Regions from separate parts of the Homo sapiens genome. Here region 1 is linked to region 2. The links come from fine-mapping of genetic effects on gene expression. A gene starts in region 2. The other region holds a variant in brackets. All regions are shown on one strand. Distances are between the middles of the regions.

Region 1 (2,902 bases), 60 kb before region 2:
TGGGTTCAAGCGATTCTCCTGCTTCAGCCTCCCAAGTAGCTGGGACTACAGATGCGTGCTACCACGCCCAGCTAATTCTTTGTATTTTAGTAGAGACAGGGTTTCACCATGTTGGCCAGGATGGTCTGGATCTCTTGATCTCATGATCCACCCACCTCGGCCTCCCAAAGTGCTGGGATTACAGGCATGAGCCACCGCACCTGGCCACTTAACCTCTTTTAAGCCTATTTTCTCATCCATACAATAGAGATAATGGCAGCACCCACCTTTCAGGTGGCTGGTAAGGAATATTAGGTGAACACAGGTGCCTATGTATGTTCTTCCATTTTCCATAAATGTTAATTCCCTTATCCCTCATCTCCTAGGTTAGTCCCGGAGGACAGACTTGAACTTTGAAAACAGAAAGTAACTGCCAAAAGGGATTATTTAGGGCACAGATTTCCCCCTTTCATTATCCTTTAGGTCCTCAGTGGTGAGGGCAGGGGACAGGAGAGGTGGGGTGAAGCCCAAATTCTTGGACCTCATCCTAGAGTGACTCTTTAGGGTTAGTGTGGGGCTTAGGAATCTGCATTTTGGACCTGTCCCCAGGGCATTCTGATGCCTACAGTTCTCCTGTGTGGCTTTGAATAACGCTGGGTAGTGCTTTAAATCCAAGCTGACAGACCAGTGGGATGTGAACCATCCTTGCAAATGGTTTGAGCCCTTTCTGCACTGGCCTCCAACTTTGCCTTGCTCAGTCTTCAGCTCCCCTTCCATTCTGGCCCTCTCCCCTTACCCTTTCCTTTTTCACTTCCTTTTATTTTTATTTATTTTTATTATTATTTAAAAAAAATTTTTTTTGAGACAGGATCTCACTCTGTCGCCCAGGCTGTAGTGCAGTGGCATTATCTTGGCTCACTGCAATCTCCGCCTCCCGGGTTCAAGCAATTCTCATACCTCAGCCTCCTTAGTAGCTGGGACTACAGACACACACCACCACACCTGGCTAATTTTTGTATTTTTAGTAGAGATGGGCTTTCACCATGTTGGCCAGGCAGGTCTCGAACTCCTGACCTCAAGTGATCCACCAGCTTCGGCCACCCAAAGTGCTGGGATTACAGGCATGACCCACCGTGCCCAGCCTCCTTTTTCACTTCCCACCTTCCTCCCCACCTCTGGGTGCACCCTTCCCTGAGCTCAGCCTGTATTCCTATGTGCTGGCCACTTACCAGCCAGTCCCTTCAGCTGCAATACCCTTTACTCACCTAGAAAGCTCATATCAAAAGTCGCCTCCTCCAGAATACCTCTCAAGTTCTCCTCTCTGGTCCCTTGGCCCTTTGCAGGTACCTTTTTTCTTGCGCAAGTCACGTGATAATGTAAGGGTTTTTTTTTTTTTTTTCCCCCCCATCTGGAGCCTGCCTGGTGGGCTCAGGGTCCATTTGTGCAAACATGCATTTCCCTCTCCTCTGCGCCCCCTCCTTCATGATCCATGCTTTATGCAGCTTCCCCAAGGCATGCAGAGCAAGCTGAGAAGAGGTAGGCAAGCCTG[A/C]AGACTTTTCAAAGAAGCAGGGTAGCTTGGGAAGTAAGAGAAGACCAGGAGATAGGGGCTCCTAAAAAGCAGACAAGAGATTACCGAGGGGTTCCCCACAGCTCCAGCACACAGCCGCTGCACAAAAATGCAGTGGAATTACTGAGGGACATTATGTGCTTGATGGGGGACAGGGAATGCTTGTGCCAAGCCACCAAGGATTATGCTGTGCCAGTTGTATACTATCGTTTTGCCAAGGTGAAAGGATTTCCCTACTAAATCCCTTACTTTCCACTTTGTTTAAAATGAGTTTAACACCGAGAGAATAGTTTGTCTCTATGTCCTTATTTCTAATCTTCCTGCTCAACCATTAACTGCAGTAAACACACTCAGACCCATCTAGTCTAAAATTGAGAAGGGGAGGTTCTCACTCCTGGAGAGAGAATTACTGAAAGGGCGGCCCTCATACAGTCCAGGGTCATACCCCCAAGTGCTGGTTTTATACTTGAAAGCAGACAGTGGGACTCTGAACTTTGCAGAGATAAGAGGGACACCTTCCTACCCAGAGAAGCCAAAAGAGCACAGGACGCCCAGGCCGAGGGCAGTGAAGCTTGCTTCCAAGAACTGGCCCGTTCCCCAGCCAACCCCTGTGCCCACTTAGGACTGGCATGTAGCAGTACCTCTCCTCATCCACACTCAGGCCCTAGGCTCCCAATTGACCAAAGCCTGCAAGTATAAAGTGTCCAGAGCATGGGTCCCTGCCAACACTCCCTGCCCTGCTCTTCACTACCTGTGGCCACCACTTATGACATTTTGTTCCGAGTTCATCTGAAAGAGAAATGTCACTTTTGCGTTAGAAAGAAGATATACAGGCCAGGTGTGGTGGTTCATGCCTGTAATCCCAGCACTTTGGGAGGCCGAGTCAGGAGGATCGCCTGAGGCCAGGAGTTGGAGACCAGGTTAGGTAACACAGTGAGACCCCTGTCTCTACAAAATAAACAAATTTTTTTAAAAATGAAAAGATTGGCCGGGCGCGGTGGCTCACGCCTGTGATCCCAGCACTTTGGGAGGCCGAGGCGGGTGGATCACCAGGTCAGGAGATCGAGACCATCCTGGCTAACACGGTGAAACCCCATCTCTACTAAAAACATAAAAAAATTAGCCGGGCGTGGTGGCGGGCTCCTGTAGTCCCAGCTACTCGGGAGGCTGAGGCAGGAGAATGGCGTCAATCCAGGAGGCGGAGCTTGCAGTGAGCCGAGATCGCGCCATTGCACTCCAGCCTGGGCGACAGAGCCAGACTCCGTCGCAAAAAAAAAAAAAAAAAGAAAAAAGAAAAAATTAGCTGGGCGTGGTGGTGCACGCCTGTAGTCCCAGCTGCTTGGAGGCTGAGGTGGG
Region 2 (2,902 bases):
GCGGGTGCCTGTAATCCCAGCTACTCAGGAAGCTGAGGCAGGAGAACCACTTGAACCCGGAGGCGGAGGTTGCAGTGAGCCAAGATCGTGCCGCTGCACTTCGGCCTGGGAGACAGAGTGAGACTCTGTCTTAAAAAAAATAGCTGATATATTGTGTGCGCTGGGCATGTGGTAAGCACTGCTTAGTGGACCTCATTTAATCTTCCCAATAATCCAGTGAAGTGGGTGTTACTATCCCATTGACAGGAAAGAAATCTGAGCTGCAGAGATAAGGCAGAACTCCCAAGGCCTACCAGCCGCCAAGCAGCAGAGTGGGGCATCATACCTGCCTGACCCCACGCAAAGACCATCACCACTGCCAGCCACTGCCTGGCTGTGCTGCAGGTGGAGAGGGACCTAAAAGGTAGGGAGGGAGAGAAGATTCCTCCAGCCACGATTTTCTTTTTTTCTTTTTTGGTTGTTGTTTTTTGAGACGGAGTCTTGCTCTGTCGCCCAGGCTGAAGTGCAGTGGCACGATCATGGCTCACGGCAGTCTCCGCCTCCCAGGTTCACACCATTCTCCTGCCTCAGCCTCCGGAGTAGCTGGGACTACAGGCTCCCGCCACCACGCCCGGCTAATGTTTTATATTTTTAGTAGAGACGGGGTTTCACCGTGTTAGCCGGGGTTTCACCGTGTTAGCCAGGGTTTCTCAATCTCCTGACCTCATGATCCGCCCGCCTCGGCCTCCCAAAGTGCTGGGATTATAGGCGTGAGCCACCGTGCCCGGCACCAGCCACTATTTTCTAAGCATGTCGGGCACCAAAGACCAGTGCTGAGTTCTGCTGTGTGCCCACCCTGGAGGGTCCCAAGGTGCCACCAAGGCTCAGACACACAGATTCTCAGAGGAAGTGTGGACTCACAGGTGGGCAATGCCTAGCAGAGGCAAAGATATAGAGGTAAGGGAGTTCCTTACTTACTATATCTTACAAAGATATAGAGGTAAGGGAGTTCCTTACTTACTATATCTTACAAAGATATAGAGGTAAGGGAGTTCCTCTGAATCTGGGTGGCCAGATTCAGCTTCCCACCCAACCCTGGGTCCCCAGGAGGTGGTGTCAAGAGAGGCCATGGCCTGGGATGCGGGCCCTTCTTCCTCCCAGAACACTGGCCTGAATCAGCCAGCTCTTGGCACACACAGCCAGGTCCACAGGCACAACTGTTCCTTGGGGCCCCTGAGGGCAGGGGGTGTGCTGGGGCTGTGGCTTGTAATGTCTGGAGTGAGTGCAGGCTCAGATCAGGGCGAGGCTGCTTGTCCAGAGAGGCAGAAAATTCTCCAACAGAAGACCCCCAAGGCGGAGGGCCCTGGGGCTGGACTCCTGGAGGTTGTTCTGAGCTTACCCTGTGGACGGATTGGAGGGTGGCCCTCCTTCCCCACAAGGATCAAGAGGGGGTGGGGGATGGTGGGAGGGCAATCTGGCCAGGCGAACCTGCGGGGGAGGCTCCCGCCCTCCCCAGTCCCACCATCTCAGCCCCGCAGCCTCTTTCTCCCTGGAGACAGCCAGGTGCGGCCCAGGATCCCGGGAAAGGCAGGGGAGGGGGTGGCGTCTTCGCTCCTCAGGCGCTGGCCCGGCCCAGAGGGGACAGGAAGCCAGGACACCGGGGATTGTCTCTCGCAACCGCAGCCCAGCCCCAGTCCGGGAGGAAGTTCTGCCCGGCGCTCTCCGCCGGTGCCTCCCTGGTTATATTGTTGAACAGGAAACCCGGCAGCGCGGGAGCCGCACAGTCGAGGAGGGAGCGCGGGACGCCGAGCCCACGCGCGCCTGCCGGGGCAAGTGGAGGCGAAGCCGGCGAGCGGACGCCCCGAGGTGCCCGGGCAGGCAGGGTCGGGAGTGGGGCGCCGAGCGGGGGTTGGGGGTGGGAAGTGGGGTGGGGGTGGGGAAAGGGCAGGGTTGGGAAGGGAAGGGTGCGGCAGGTGGCGGGTCCGCACCCGGGAGCTCCGCGCGCCTGCTCCCCTTGTCTCCGCGCTGGGGCGGGAGCTGCGCGGGCCGCATCCCACGGGGAGGAGAAGGTAGGCGAAGGGCTGCCCTCCATCTGGGGGCTGGAGGGAAGCAGGCCCAGGCCCCCAGCGCCGACCCAGGCGTTGACGCCCCTGTAGCTTGAGTCGCCTGGGCAGTGGACGCAGGGGACCTCCTGGCGACTGGTGCGCTGTCGCGCTCCAGGGATCCTCCCGGCTTCCCCAATCCCTCCCCTTCTCTGCGTTTCCCCAGGGTCGGGGAAGGAACCGAGGTCCGGTCCCCTTCTTATCCAGCCCGAGACATCGAGCTCCGGTGGGCGTCCCTGCGCTGGGAATCCCGCTCGGAGTTTTTCCAGGCCCGGCCGGGCTGCTCCGGGAAAGGCCCTGGTGAGGGAAGAGGTGGGCCCGGAGCGGGCGGATTTGCAATCCGGTTGGAAGGGCTCGCAGTGGGTGATTCAGGGTGCAAATGACCTCCCCGGGAACAGGAACGCCCGCACGAGACAACCAGCCCCAGCCCGGCATTCCCAGAGCCGCGCACAGGAGGGACGCAGGCACTCCCGGACAGCAAATCCCGGGGGGTGGGGGGTGGGGGGGCGGGGAATAGAGGGGGAAGGCGGAGCGGGGGCGGTCCCATCCTCCTTGGGCTCCGCTCGCGACCTGCCAGTGCCCCTTCAGACGCAGCAGTCCCGGCTCCAGGTGCCGGCCTTCTGCTCTGGGCCTCGTCCCAATGCCCCCCAAGGTCCCCAGCAGAGGCATTCAGGCTCCTCCTCGCCCCACCCAGACACGGCTGCTTTGGGTATCGGTGACAGCACTCCTGAGCGTCCCTGTCCCTCTTCGCTCTGCTTGCCAGCTCCTGTTCCGCGCAGCCTCTCCGGCCTCGCCCCTGGAAACCCCGCCCAGGGCGATGG

Evidence for each region. PIP is the estimated chance that this variant, and not a neighbour inherited with it, causes the effect. A credible set is the group of variants that fine-mapping cannot tell apart.
Region 1: its variant is the best candidate, but not a certain one, in a credible set for the expression of ARHGAP27 in cerebellar hemisphere (GTEx, PIP 0.64).

What each region holds. Positions count from the first base shown.
Region 1 is chr17:45,491,487-45,494,388 of GRCh38, reverse strand. LOC105369225 (a long non-coding RNA gene) reads right to left here. Exons shown (of 5, transcript XR_002958152.2): 1 at 1-2,902. Among named protein-coding and RNA genes, the nearest start is that of PLEKHM1, 2.2 kb to the right of the region's middle. The variant A/C (reference allele first, on the strand shown) is at 1,529.
Region 2 is chr17:45,431,695-45,434,596 of GRCh38, reverse strand. ARHGAP27 (Rho GTPase activating protein 27) reads left to right here and starts at 1,727. Exons shown (of 20, transcript NM_001282290.2): 1 at 1,727-1,845; 2 at 2,248-2,381; 3 at 2,845-2,902. It also overlaps a transcript of PLEKHM1 not described here.